Homo sapiens: one gene and its partners. The protein of the gene in region 3 purifies or fractionates together with the protein of the main gene of each other region. This does not show direct contact. Each region holds a gene or a part of one and is shown on either strand. Other genes may lie near its edges.

The links. The genes of interacting proteins can lie anywhere in the genome.
Region 1: the proteins of IDH3A (region 3) and PUDP fractionate together in Homo sapiens (co-fractionation; one large-scale study listed by BioGRID). This does not show direct contact.
Region 2: the proteins of IDH3A (region 3) and ABCC3 fractionate together in Homo sapiens (co-fractionation; one large-scale study listed by BioGRID). This does not show direct contact.
Region 4: the proteins of IDH3A (region 3) and ABCC1 fractionate together in Homo sapiens (co-fractionation; one large-scale study listed by BioGRID). This does not show direct contact.

Annotation. Positions count from the first base shown.
Region 1 is NC_000023.11:7,141,654-7,145,153, forward strand, and holds part of PUDP (pseudouridine-5'-phosphatase), read right to left. Parts: intron 1-3,500. UniProt on the Homo sapiens protein: Dephosphorylates pseudouridine 5'-phosphate, a potential intermediate in rRNA degradation. Pseudouridine is then excreted intact in urine.
Region 2 is NC_000017.11:50,672,881-50,676,380, forward strand, and holds part of ABCC3 (ATP-binding cassette sub-family C member 3), read left to right. Parts: intron 1-90; coding exon 91-258; intron 259-588; coding exon 589-778; intron 779-2,481; coding exon 2,482-2,596; intron 2,597-2,750; coding exon 2,751-2,895; intron 2,896-3,002; coding exon 3,003-3,210; intron 3,211-3,397; coding exon 3,398-3,500. UniProt on the Homo sapiens protein: ATP-dependent transporter of the ATP-binding cassette (ABC) family that binds and hydrolyzes ATP to enable active transport of various substrates including many drugs, toxicants and endogenous compound across cell membranes.
Region 3 is NC_000015.10:78,169,404-78,172,445, reverse strand, and holds the end of IDH3A (isocitrate dehydrogenase [NAD] subunit alpha, mitochondrial precursor), read right to left. Parts: 3' UTR 1,003-3,042; coding exon of another isoform or gene 917-1,002; 3' UTR 501-916; downstream 1-500. Other genes in the region: long-chain-fatty-acid--CoA ligase ACSBG1, read left to right, coding at 917-964. UniProt on the Homo sapiens protein: Catalytic subunit of the enzyme which catalyzes the decarboxylation of isocitrate (ICT) into alpha-ketoglutarate.
Region 4 is NC_000016.10:16,043,616-16,047,115, reverse strand, and holds part of ABCC1 (multidrug resistance-associated protein 1), read right to left. Parts: intron 2,667-3,500; coding exon 2,436-2,666; intron 1,281-2,435; coding exon 1,103-1,280; intron 1-1,102.

The DNA of each region.
Region 1 (3,500 bases), on a different chromosome or scaffold from region 3:
TCAATGTAGACAAAACAGCCTTCTATTGGAAGAAAATGCCACCCATGACGTTCATAGCTAGAGAGGAGAAGTCAGTGTCTGGCTTGAAAGCTTTAAAGGACAGGCGGACTTTTGTGTTAGTGGCTAATGCAGATGGTGACTTTAACTTGAAGCCAGTGCTCATTTACAATTCTGAAAATCCTAGTGCTCTTAAAAATGATGCTGAATCTTCTCTTCCTGGGCTTTGTAAATGGAACAGCAAAGCTTGGATGACAGCACATCTGTTTACAGCATGGTTTACCGAATATTTTAAGCCCACTATTAAGAATTACTGCTCAAAAACAAATATTTCTTTCAAAATATTTCTGCCCACTGACAACGTACCTGGTCACCCAAGAGCTCTGATGGAGATGTACAAGGAGATTCGTGTTATTTTCAGGCCTGCTAACACGACATCTACTCTGCAGCCCATGGATTGAGGAGTAACTTCAACTTTCAAGTCTTATTACTTAGGATATGCATTTCCTAAGGTTATAGATGCCATAGATAGTGATTCCTCTGATGCATCTAGGCAAAGTAAATGGAAAACCTTCAGGAAAGGATTTAGCATTCCAGATGCCATTCACAACATTCATGATCCATGGGAAAAGATGAAAATATCAATGTTAACAGGAGTTTGTAAGGAGTTGATTCCAATCCTCATGGATGACTTTGAGGGGTTCAAGACTTCAGCAGAGGAAGTAACTGCAGAATGTGATGGAAATACCAAGAGAACTAGAATTAGAAGTGAAGCCTGAAGATTTGACTGAGTTGCTGCAATCTCAGGATGAAACCTGAACTGAATAGACACTGCTTCTTAGGGACGCGAAAAGAAAGTGGTTTCTGGAGATAAAAATCTATTTCTGGTGAAGATGTTGTTGAACATTGTTGAAGTGACAACAAAGGATTCACTATATTAACATAAACTTAGTTGGTAAAGCAGCAGCAGCAGAGTTTGAGAGGACTCCAATTTTTTTTTTTTTTTTTTTTTGAGACAGAGTCTTACTCTGTCGTCCAGGCTGGAGTGCAGTGGTGGGATCTCGGCTCACTGCAACCTCAGCCTCCCGGGTTCAAGTGATTCTCGGGCCTCAGCCTCCTGAGTAGCTGGGACTACATGTGTGCACCATCATGCCTGGCTAATTTTTGTGTGTGTATTTTTGGTAGAGATGGGGTTTTGCCATGTTGGCCAGACTGGTCTCGAACTCCTGACCTCAAGTGATCTGCCTGCCTCTGCCTCCCAAAGTGCTGGGATTATAGGCATGAGCCACCATGCCTCGCCAAAAGAGAATTTTTTTGTAAAAGAAAGAATCAAGTGATGTGGCAAACTTCATTGCTGTTTTATTTTTTAAAATTGCCACAGCCACCCCAACCTTCAGCAACCACTACTCTGGTCAACAGTCAATATCAAGACAACACCTTCCACCAGCAAAAGAATTACAACTCACTGAAGGATGACATGATCCCTAGCACTTTTTTTTTTAAAGCAATAAAATGTATTTAAGGTTATGTACATTTTTTAGACATAATGCTATTGTACACCTAATAGAATACAGTATAGTATAAACCTAACCTTATGTGTACTGGGAAACCAAAAACTTCATGTGACTAATTTTATTGCGATGTTTGCTTTACTGTGATGGTCTGGAACTGAACCCACAATAGTTCTCACACATGCCTGTATCCAGTTTACTTAAAGATTCTAAATAAAACCATATTGCTTTTATTTGAAAGAGAGAGCTAGAAAAAAGAAAAGGATATTTTACACCTGCATGCCTAGAATCTGCTGAATATTTGTGTTGCCAGCTGGACAAAACTCTTATTATTTATCTGCAGAATTTTGCAATTTAAGTTTTACCCCCTTCTCAATTATTCTAGAAACAGAAACAGCTGCAGTGGACAACCAACCACTTACTACAAGAACTTAAGGTTGGCATGGTTCAGGTCAATTAGAAAACAGAACCAAACGGAGCTAAATCTATAATCTGATGCTGTTTCTCCAACATACAATATAGCATCTTACTCTAAATCTCTTCGGACCCTTAATAGGAACACACGTGTCTTGTGCTTTCTATATTCCAGAAGCCTTTTCAGTTTCCAGAAACAACAGATTACTCATTGATCACCCTGTAGTGAAAGGCCAATCATGGCCCCTGAGATAAGGGTTCATCTCTGTCCCAAGCCCTCACACTGGCCTCCACCCTCAGCCATCTCCTTTGCAAACGTGGAAGAGAACCTACATTTCACCTAGCAAGGGTAAAACCCAAGGGTACACTGTCAGCCTCCAGGGAAGACAGGGCAAAGAAAGAATGTGAACCTACCACCAGAGTTGCTTTGACATCCAGAGCAAGACCCATTACAAATGATGGAAGGAGGGGAGATTGTGATTACGATCTCATTCCAACTAGGATCACTGCACGTTCTGGGGTTAAACAATAACCACCTATGGAAGCATGCAGAATGATCCTTCACTTTGCTCCACCTTCCTCAGAAATGTGCCAAAACTCTTAGAAATCCCACTTGGAATGAATGACTTGATAACATCAAGTAGTAAGAACCGACTGAGGCTGAAAAGCTTGTCAGCTGCACTTTTAAACCTCAGACGTATTTCATGGGGTCAAATGACAACATACATAGATTCTTCTGACAATCCACCTAGGGCATGCGCTAATATTACGTAAGAAAAATCTATTTTTGTCATCAGCTATATAGATGTTCTGGTGTCTAAAGAAACAGCCTACATGAAGTTAACAAAGAATGACAGCGCAAAACACACTCACGCTATGTCTGTGGAATTTTGGCCACACAGTGGACATGACTGTCAACTGTCTCAGGCAGCCCACAATCCCATCAGTACTGGGCTTGGTAATCCCCACAGAGACCCTACCTCCATGACCTTTTAGGGTCTCCTGGGCCCCAGACAGTGAGGCAGGCACTTATAGTCTCAAGTGCTATTATTTGGCAAGGAGGAAGCTACGGGAGTGCAAAAAGGCACAGAAGAGGTCTTCATTTTACTAAAGGTGAAGTAGAAGTCACTCATTAAAATCCTGCAATCTGGATTTATAAAGATATGGTATATTATGGTCAACACTGCAAATGTTCTTATTACCCTTCGCAGATCTACCTTATTATTTTACGATATTTAAGAAACTGGAAATAAGCTTATTTTCCTTTGATTTTAAAAGGATTTTAAATAATTCTGTATTAGACTCCAAGAAAACACATTTTACACATACCACATTTTACATACACCAAAACTCCTAATTCTGAATATTCTTAACACCCACCCTCTGCCTGACCCTCCCAGCATAGCCATTATCAACAGACATCTTGGGTTGCTCCACAAAGACCTAGACCCATGCTGTCCAAGCCAGTAGCCACCCACCAAATGAGGCTACAGAGTGCCTGAAATGAGGCTAGTTCAAACTAAGATGTGTTGTATGTATAAAACACACACAGATTTTGAGGACCTAGTATCAAAATTA
Region 2 (3,500 bases), on a different chromosome or scaffold from region 3:
AAAAATCTGCCATCCCAAATAACAGTGGACAGGCCGTTGTCTCCCTGTGCCTGTCTGACCCCATTTTTCCCACCCCCCGCCTCCCTCCAGGGCATTAACCTGTCTGGGGGCCAGCGGCAGCGGGTCAGTCTGGCTCGAGCTGTTTACAGTGATGCCGATATTTTCTTGCTGGATGACCCACTGTCCGCGGTGGACTCTCATGTGGCCAAGCACATCTTTGACCACGTCATCGGGCCAGAAGGCGTGCTGGCAGGCAAGGTGAGGCCTGCCAGAGGCTAAGGGGGCTAAGGTGAGATCTGAGGCCCGAAGAGAGAGCTGGTGAGAGGCTGAGGGGTTTGGATGAGACTTGGAGGTGTGGGGGGCGCAAGAAGTGGGCATGTGGGTTGGGCATCAGGAGAAACCTGTGGGGACAACTCCCCCACCTGCGAGGTTCTGAGCAGGCTGTGGCGAGCACAGGGTGAGTCACCCATGTGCCTGTCCAAGCTCCCTGGCACATGGGCACACTTCACACTCACTCTGTGGCTCCGTGCCTGTGCCAGGGGTGTGCTGGAGGGTGGTAGGGGTGAGAGCCTGCTGCCTTCTCCCCAGACGCGAGTGCTGGTGACGCACGGCATTAGCTTCCTGCCCCAGACAGACTTCATCATTGTGCTAGCTGATGGACAGGTGTCTGAGATGGGCCCGTACCCAGCCCTGCTGCAGCGCAACGGCTCCTTTGCCAACTTTCTCTGCAACTATGCCCCCGATGAGGACCAAGGGCACCTGGAGGACAGCTGGACCGGTATCTGCCATCCTGGGCCCTCTGATTCCCATGCCTTCCCAGCATTCCCCCTGTCTGGGGTCTCTGAGTGTGTCTAGACTGGCCTAGTGTTGTGCCAGGCAGGTTCTGGGAAACTTGGGCCATCTGTGTGACAGTCACCAGAGGTAAAGTAAACTGGACATAGTCGGGTCCCACTGCCTCCTCCATCCTACTCTACCCTAACTGTGGGAACTCAGATCCTCCGCCCCGGTCTCAGAGCCTGTTTTCTTTCTTTCTTTCTTTCTTTCTTTCTTTCTTTCTTTCTTTCTTTCTTTCTTTCTTTCTTTCTTTCTTTCTTTCTTTCTCTCTCTCTCTCTCTCTCTCTCTCTCTCTCTCTCTCTCTCTCTCTCTCTCTCTCTCTTTCTTTCTTTCTTTCTTTCTTTCTTTCTTTCTTTCTTTTTTTTCTTTTGAGGCAGAGTCTGGCTCTGTCGCCGGGCTGGAGTGCAGTGGTACAATCTCAGCTCACTGCAACCTCTGCCTCCCAGGTTCAAGTGATTCTCCTGCCTCAGGCTCCCGAGTAGCTGGGACTACAGGCATGCGCCACCACGCCTGGCTAATTTTTGTATTTTTAGTACAGACATGGTTTCACCATGTTGGCCAGGATGGTCTCGATCTCTTGACCTCGTGATCTGCCTGCCTCGGCCTCCCAAAGTGCTGGGATTACAGGTGTGAGCCACCTTGCCCGATCTCAGAGCCTGTTTTCCATCTGTTGAAAGCATAGGAGGGCCCAGGCCCAGCTTGTGTGGCAAGGCTGCTTCATGGATAAATAGTTTGGCAAGTATGCAAGTGCTTAGCAAAGCCGCTTATTTATCAACCAAAATTTATTGGACAATCACTATATACAGGCACTGTTCCAGACACTAAGCTATAGCAGTGAGCAAACAAAAAAATTATAGTCCTCATGGAGCTTGTTGACGTCTCTGGGCTCACAACATGCCCCTGGCTCCTTGTTGCCCAGACCCAGCTCCCCAGCCCCCAATTCTGGATTGGCTCACAGACCTTTTCCTGGGCTTTCTTGCCTATGGCTATACATACAGCCAACGTGCCTTGAGCATTTACCAAGTGCTGTGCCCCTCGCTCACACACTGGACACATTTTCTTTTAAGCCTACAGTCATGCAGATTTTTTTTTTTTTTTTTTGGGGACAGTTTCTCACTCTGTTGCCCAGGCTGGAGTGCAACGGTGCGATCTTGGCTCACTGCAACCTTTGCCTCCTGGGTTCAAGCGATTCTCCTGCCTCAGCCTCCCGAGTAGCCAGGATTATAGGTGCCCGCCACCACGCCCGGCTAATTTTTGTATTTTTAGTAGAGACGGGGTTTCACCATGTTGGCCAGGCTGGTCTCGATCTCCTGACCTCGTGAGCTGCCTGCCTCAGCCTCCCAAAGTGCTGGGATTACAGGCGTGAGCCACCATGCCCGACCAAGGACGTGAGTTTTAAGCTCAGCCAGTCTAACTCCAGAGCCCAAGTTCCTAACCCTTGTATTTGAGTCCGTTTCTCCATAATTTGTGAAGAGAGTTTTTCTTGTTGCTTAACCCAAGTCTTTCTTGTTGCCCTTTCAATCCCCCTCATTTTATTTTCATGCTTGTCCATTGAACCCCTTTCATTAGAGTGGGGAATGGGAGATACCAGGGGCTTGCAGGGAGAACTAGCTGAACCCTATCTCCTTCCTCCCACCCTACTGCAGCGTTGGAAGGTGCAGAGGATAAGGAGGCACTGCTGATTGAAGACACACTCAGCAACCACACGGATCTGACAGACAATGATCCAGTCACCTATGTGGTCCAGAAGCAGTTTATGAGGTGAGTTCCTGAGAGCTCCCAGCCCTCCCGGAGGCTGTATCAGGCCTCCCCAGGCCCTGCCAGATGGGGTGCAGGTTTCTCCCTGACACTCCCAGCCTCTGTCCTGGGGGGTGCTTGAGGCCCCCTCCCTGGGCCTGACCAGCTGCCTCCACAGACAGCTGAGTGCCCTGTCCTCAGATGGGGAGGGACAGGGTCGGCCTGTACCCCGGAGGCACCTGGGTCCATCAGAGAAGGTGCAGGTGACAGAGGCGAAGGCAGATGGGGCACTGACCCAGGAGGAGAAAGCAGCCATTGGCACTGTGAGTCGGTGGGGCAAGAGGGGCTGGAGGGGATGGACAGGCAGGCCCCAGCAGCCCCAGGGTTTATGGAGTCCCCTGTCCCTGACTGCCATGGCTGCTCCCTACAGGTGGAGCTCAGTGTGTTCTGGGATTATGCCAAGGCCGTGGGGCTCTGTACCACGCTGGCCATCTGTCTCCTGTATGTGGGTCAAAGTGCGGCTGCCATTGGAGCCAATGTGTGGCTCAGTGCCTGGACAAATGATGCCATGGCAGACAGTAGACAGAACAACACTTCCCTGAGGCTGGGCGTCTATGCTGCTTTAGGAATTCTGCAAGGTGAGCTTGTGGGGGTGTCCAGAAGGGGCTCCAATATCCCTTCTTCTCTGGGCTGCCAGGCCCCCCAAACCGTGCCCTTGCATCCAAGCCTCCCTAACCCACTCTGGTCAACCCGTGTCTCTGATTCTGCCCCTTTGTGCCCGCTCACTAGTCCAGGTGAGCCAGCGCCCTCTGCCTTCTCCAACAGGGTTCTTGGTGATGCTGGCAGCCATGGCCATGGCAGCGGGTGGCATCCAGGCTGCCCGTGTGTTGCACCAGGCACTGCTGCACAACAAGATACGCTCGCCACA
Region 3 (3,042 bases):
AATTAGGGGAAGACCTCTCATAAAGACCATGGCAGAGGCTCCCCATAACCTGGGCTTCCCCTACCCCCATCACAACCATCAAAGCATAATGTCCAACGTTGTATAAACGTTCACAAAAATGCAGAGATGATGTGTACTAGCTATCTAATACATTGCTGTGTAACAAATGACCCCAAAAATGTAGCAGCCTAAAGCAGTAAACATTTATTATCCACATTTCTATGGGTCAAGAATCCAGGAACAGCTTAGCTGAGTGGTTCTGGCTTGGGTCTCACGGGATTACAGTCAATGTGAGCTGGGTGCAGTCACTTGCAGCTGAGGCTCACCTCCGCGCTCACTTACGTGGCTGTCGGCAGGCCTCAGCTCCTTGCTGTCTGCTGGCCAGAAACATCCGTGTGTGGCCAGTGGGCCTCTCATGGGCTGTGTATCCTCACAACATGGCAGCCGGCTTGCCCAGGAAGAATGGTCCAAGAGAAAGCCCAAGACAGAAACCTAGTCTATTTTTTAATTGCTTCAACAATTTATTCATTCAAGAGATGGAACAAATAAATCCATTTCAGAGAAAATGGACTGAGGGTCAAAACTGGGTACAGGTCAAGGAAAAGGCAGATGTAGCTTACACTACTTTCCTATGTGTATAAAAGAAACTGATCTTTTATAACCTATTCTCAGAGGTGACATACCAACCCTTCATCTATACTCCACTGGCCACAACCAGTGGTATAACACAGGAGACTACACACAAGCCATATGAATACCAGGAGCGATCACTGTCTTGGAGGCTGGCTACTGACGGTCCTGATTATCTGGCTTAATTCCTGAGTTATATATAGGACTGAGTGTGAGTCTTTACCACACACATTCTCAGAGTTCTCAGAGCCTGGGCCTCACTCATTTCTTCTCATTTCCCTTTTAGGTCCCACGATGAAACTGAAACGGCTCACAGTTTTGGAGAAGTACAAAGGTATCATTGACTCCTTTTACCAAGAGCAAAAAATGTAATCAGGGCCTATGCCTGCAGTTTCTATAGAATAGAGGGCAGGCGTTCCGAGCCTCTTCCTGAGCCCCAGGTCTCTTCAGTCTGGGCACAGGCATTTCTGCCAAGTCTGTTAGATCTCCAGGTCAGGGCACAGCACTGGCTCTACATTTACCAGGTCTTACGCCAACAATAGCTGACAATTCCAAGAAGCTTCACGTGTGGGTAGTTTTAATTCAGTTTAAGTATTGCTTTTTGTTCAGGTGACAAATGAGATCAGCTCTCCTTCCAGAACGAAAGGGCTGATAATTTTTGGCCTTAGTTCCAGGTAGATTAAAAAGCTGCTAGCTCACATACAGGACAGCCAGCAGTAGGCTGTGGAGCGGGTAGGAGAGAGATGGCTGATACTGCTCACGTGCGCTGCAGGAAAAGCAATCAGTCACAACTCACCTAGCGACCTGACTTACTCTGGAATCTTGGCGGGCATCGCCGACCCTATTATTCCATTACCAGGCACTCCGCCACCCACATGCCAACTGACTTGATGCTTAATAAAACTGCTGCTGCCTGTTTGATTCTATTTAATGTATAATTTGAATATTAAACCTTTTAACAGAACTGTCAACAAGGACCTGATTTTTTTTGTCAATTGAGCAGGTGGGACCAGTGCAGAGAGTAGTGGGCATTTAACTCACAGGACTGTGCACAGCGGGCATGCGAGTGACCATTAGTGCCCTGGAATAAACAAAGGTGCAGGATGGGGTCAAGTGGCGCATTCTCATAAAAGCAGCCAGCTCTACGTTAGCCTGTCGCCACCAGACCACCCCACTTCCATTCTGAATACGGGAAGCAGCCATTCTCAGTAGCAAGCTGAGCCAAAATGACCGAAGGCATCTGAACAGGAAACAGGTAGAGAAAGCAAACATCTCAGTTTTGGAATTCTTTATTACTTTGAACCCAAGAGCCACTGATAACTGGCACAATCCAATGAAACAGAGGAAGCAGCAGCTTAAACAAAGGAAAATACATTTAAGATTATAAGTCTGGGGGGGCGGTTACAAGCTTAAAAAGTGACCCAGACAGGGATATCATTGCTAAAAAAAAAAAAATCCCCTTGTGACCTGGGTACATTTTGCAAAGCCACAGGTTTGCAATGTTACACAAGGGCCAAAGGAGGCCATGAGTTGTCTTTGGTTGTGGGGACAGAGGGTAACTGTTCATGAAAATAGTGAGTGTCTGAAGATTAAGAAAATCATGCTGCAGCAGAGGAGAAGGGAGAGGAAGACAGGAAGGGAAAGGAGATGCCTGAGGGTCAAAAGCTGAGCCCAAGCCTAAGCCCAAGCTCAAGCTCAAGCCCCAGCATGGCATAATTTTGTGAATTAACTCAGGCTGAGTTGCCTCCAGTCTTTGGAATGTCATCTTATACTGGTACTGCTGAGGCAGAGGGCAGTAATTGGTGCTTTGGGATAGGAGAAGGGGCAGTTGCTGAAATACAAAATTAATAGCATCCCAAGTTCCTCAATTGCAGCCAAAATACATGTGTTCGGGCCTTTCGGCAGTATCGCCCCCAGAACTACCTGCTGTAGTGTGGTCCATTCCCAGACAGCAACATGCAAGAATAAGTTTACAATACACTCAGCCCTTCTGGCTTCAGATCAGGGGCTCAGAGGCTGTGACAACTCATGATGCTGAAAATGTATCCAGTGAAAATGAAGTACTAGCTCTCTGCTTCATTAAAAGCTCTTGGAAAGAATATTAAATCTCAAGACAACAAAATAATTGAACACACAATACATTTGTGTCTTTGTATCCAATATATTACCTTTGTCTTATTAACAAAAATTATATCTCTCATTATATATTTCTTGGATCTGAAGTTTTTATTCACACTCAGTAATTTCTGTAAAGGACAAATCTGTCTCTATTTTCCATATCATTTAGAAATATACCACATTCACTCTTTTTGATGTGAACTTTCCCAGGAAAATTCTCTTGTGCCCATTTAGTTTTAGAAGAGTGTCATTTTGTGCTATTATGTCAATATCCTGTTTTATTTCCATTATGTT
Region 4 (3,500 bases), on a different chromosome or scaffold from region 3:
AGTGATTCTTTTAACTCAATCTCCTGAGTAGACGGGACTACAGGTACGCACCACCATACCTGGCTAATTTTTTTAAATTTTCTGCAGAGCCAGGGTCTTGCTATATTGACCAGGCTGGTATTGAACTTCCAAGCCTCCAGTGATTCCCCCACCTTGGTCTCCCAAGCTGCTGGGATTACAGGCATGAGCTACAGTGCCTGGCCTGCATCAGTTTAAGCTCCCCAGGTGAGTCTAATTCACAGACAGGCCTGAGAATCACTCCTCTAGTTCATCAAGTACCTGCAAGACTGTCTCTTCCTAACCTAGGAGCCAAGCAGTTTCCTTGACCTCGAGACAAAAAAAAAAAAAAATTTATAGGGATCAAGAAGGTAATTTAGGTCCTTTGAAATTGGATGTACACAAATGCCTGCTACATACTCTTACCATGCAAGGAATGTGCCACCTGCTCAGTTCAAATTAAGAGTGACAACAGGCTGGGCGCGGTGGCTCATGCCTGTAATCCCAGCACTTTGGGAGGCTGAGGCAGGCGGATCACCTGAGGTCAGCAGTTCAAGATCAGCCTGGCCAACATGGCGAAACCCTGTCTCTACTAAAAATACAAAAATTAGCCGGTCGTGGTGGCAGGCGCCTGTAGTCCCCGCTACTCAGGAGGCTGAGGCAGAAGAATCGCTTGAACTCAGGAGGCAGAAGTTGCAGTGAGCCAATATCATGCCACTGCACTCCAGTCTGGGGGAGAGAGTGAGACCTGGTCTCAAAAAAACGAAAAAAAAAGAGTGACAACAAGCTGAAACACAGAATGTTAACAGCAGAATGAGGATCCAAACTTGGATTTCCCCACAACAAGGGCCACTGATCCATCTAAGAAACTCAATTACTCACAGCTGATACACAAAGACATCTACACGCCCACCCTTGAAATCAGCTTTCCTAACGTACAATGCCTGATGCGTGCTGTCCCTGCCACCTAAGGTCACGGAAGCTACCCTCATCCTACTGCTCCAGAAGCTGGGCTGGAAATCCCCACGCTGGCCCCAGAGTAACCCAGGGCTGCAGGAGGGGATGTGGAAGTCGGGCCACATGCCAATGGCACAGCGTCCCCTACCTTCCGATAGACAGCCCCAATGACAGCGGTCTTGATCCTCATGCCACTGACGAAGCAGATGTGGAAGTACTGGTGCAGCACGAGGGTCTGCAGGCAGGCAGTGACAAACAGCAGCACGGTGTAGAAGTAGCCCTGCCAGTCTGGGGCCTTCGTGTCATTCACGAACTTGATGAGCAACCTGCAAAGGAGCAAAGAGAGGGCCTGGAATGACTTGTGACACGTGGGGGCAGGGAAGAGAGCTTCAGTGTTGGCACTGCAACTTTCTCCTGAGCCAGATGAGCTAGACACTATCACTTCAATTTCATAGATGGAAAAACAAGTCCACAGTGGTGATCTGGCTGTGCAGGTGACCCAAACTGCTCATAAAAGAGGCCTCTGCCTTGGGGTTGTGCACTAATTGCTCTAGCTATATCTCATCACCAGCAAGTCACCCAAAGGAATTGCATAGGGAACACGAGGTAAAGAGGTAGGGAGGAAAAGAGAAGGGATGTGTAGCCCCTGAGTCACAGAGCAGCAGAGAGCCAGGTAGGAGAGAGGCAACTTCCTTTCTGACTCCCCAGTTCCTGGTTGCAGTTTTTTGTTGTTGTTTTTATTCTTTTTTTTTTTTTTTTTTTTTTTGAGACAAAGTCTTGCTCTGTCGCCAAGGTTTGAGTTCAGTGATGCAATCAGCTTGCTGTAACCTCTGCCTCCTGGGTTCAAGCAATTTTTATGCCTCAGCCTCCTGAGTAGCTGGGATTACAGGCGTGCACCACCACGCCCGGCTAATTTTTGTATTTTTAGCAGATGGTTTTACCATGCTGGCCAGGCTGGTCTTGACCTCCTGACCTCAGGTGATCTTCCCACCTCAGCCTCTCAAAGTGCTGGGATTATAGGCATGAGCCACTGCGCCCAACCCTGGTTGCAGTTTTTTCATGAGATCTGCTGGCATTTCCTTGCTCTTGGTTTCCCAAGACAATGCCATATCCTCCCCATTTGGGTTTTAGGGGAGCCTAGTGGGTTTCTGTTACTTGCAAACGATGTGGTCTTCACTAATATGGTAATTAAGTAAAGCATAAAGTAAAGCTAGGCAGTGACCATGGCTCACATCTGCAATCCCAGCACTTTGGGAGGCCGAGGCAGGAGGATCGCTTGAAGTCAGGAGCTCGAGACCAGCCTGACCAACAAAGCAAGACCCTGTCTCTATTTTTTTCAAAAAAGCTAAAGTAAAAATGGAGACATCTGGCTATGAGCCCACTTCAGGACACAGCATGACCCCAGGGTTATGACTGATGCAACTGAAAGATCAAAGCCAAGGAGGGAAAATGGAGCCCACCTGGGAGGGAAGGGGTCTTACTTTAAGATCTGCGGCCCGGAAAACATCATCAGGTCGTGGATGGCCTTGAAGAAGAAGCTCATGAGGAAGTAGGGCCCAAAGGTCTTGTATAACACCTTAAACAGAGAGGGGTTCCACTCCTTCTGTGGGGACTTGACGATCAAAGCCTCCACCTCCTCATTCGCATCCACCTTGGAACTCTCTTTCGGCTGGGCAGGATCCTTGGAGGAGTACACAACCTTCACCGGCTGCCTGGAACACAAGGAGGTGAAGCCGTTGTGGGGTCTGCCAGAGATGCAGCCCCCTACCACAGGGACATGGCCAGGGAATGTCACCCTTCAGGGAAGGCAGAGTCAAAGACAACAAGCCCAGGGAAAGAGGCAGCTCAGCACAGTGGTTACAAACACGGGCTCCAGAGCCACGGGCTCCAGAGCCACCGGCTCAAGGTCTGGCTTGGCCACTGGCCAGCTGCGTGACTTCAGACAAGGTCCTTAAGCTCTCTGGGCCTCAGTTTCCTCCTCTGTGAAATGAGGATAAAAGTAGGACCTACCTCCAAGGTAGGTAAGATTAAACGAGTTGAATAAGTTAAAGACTTAGAAAACTGATGGCTCCAAACTGATCTAGAGTCAAGGCAATCCCCATCAAAAGCCCAGCTGGCTGCCAGGTAGAAATTATGAGCTAACTTTAAAATTCACATGGAAACTCAAGGATCCAGAACAGTCAAAACAATCATGAAAAATAAGAATCAAGTTGGAGGATTCACACTTCCTGATTTCAAAACAATACAAAATAACAATCATGGCCAGGAGTGGTGGTTCACACCTGTAATCCCAGCACTTTGGGAGGCCAAGGTGGCTGGATCACTTGGGGTCAGGAGTTTGAGACCAGCCTGACCAACATAGTGAAACCCCATCTCTACTAAAAATACAAAAATTAGCCGGGCATGATGGCAGGTGCCTGTAATCCCAGCTACTTGGGAGGCTGAGGCAGGAGAATTACTTGAACCTGGGAGGTGGAGGTTGCTGTGAGTGGAGATCAGGCCATTGCACTCCAGCCTGGGTGACAGAGCAAAACTCCATCTCAAAA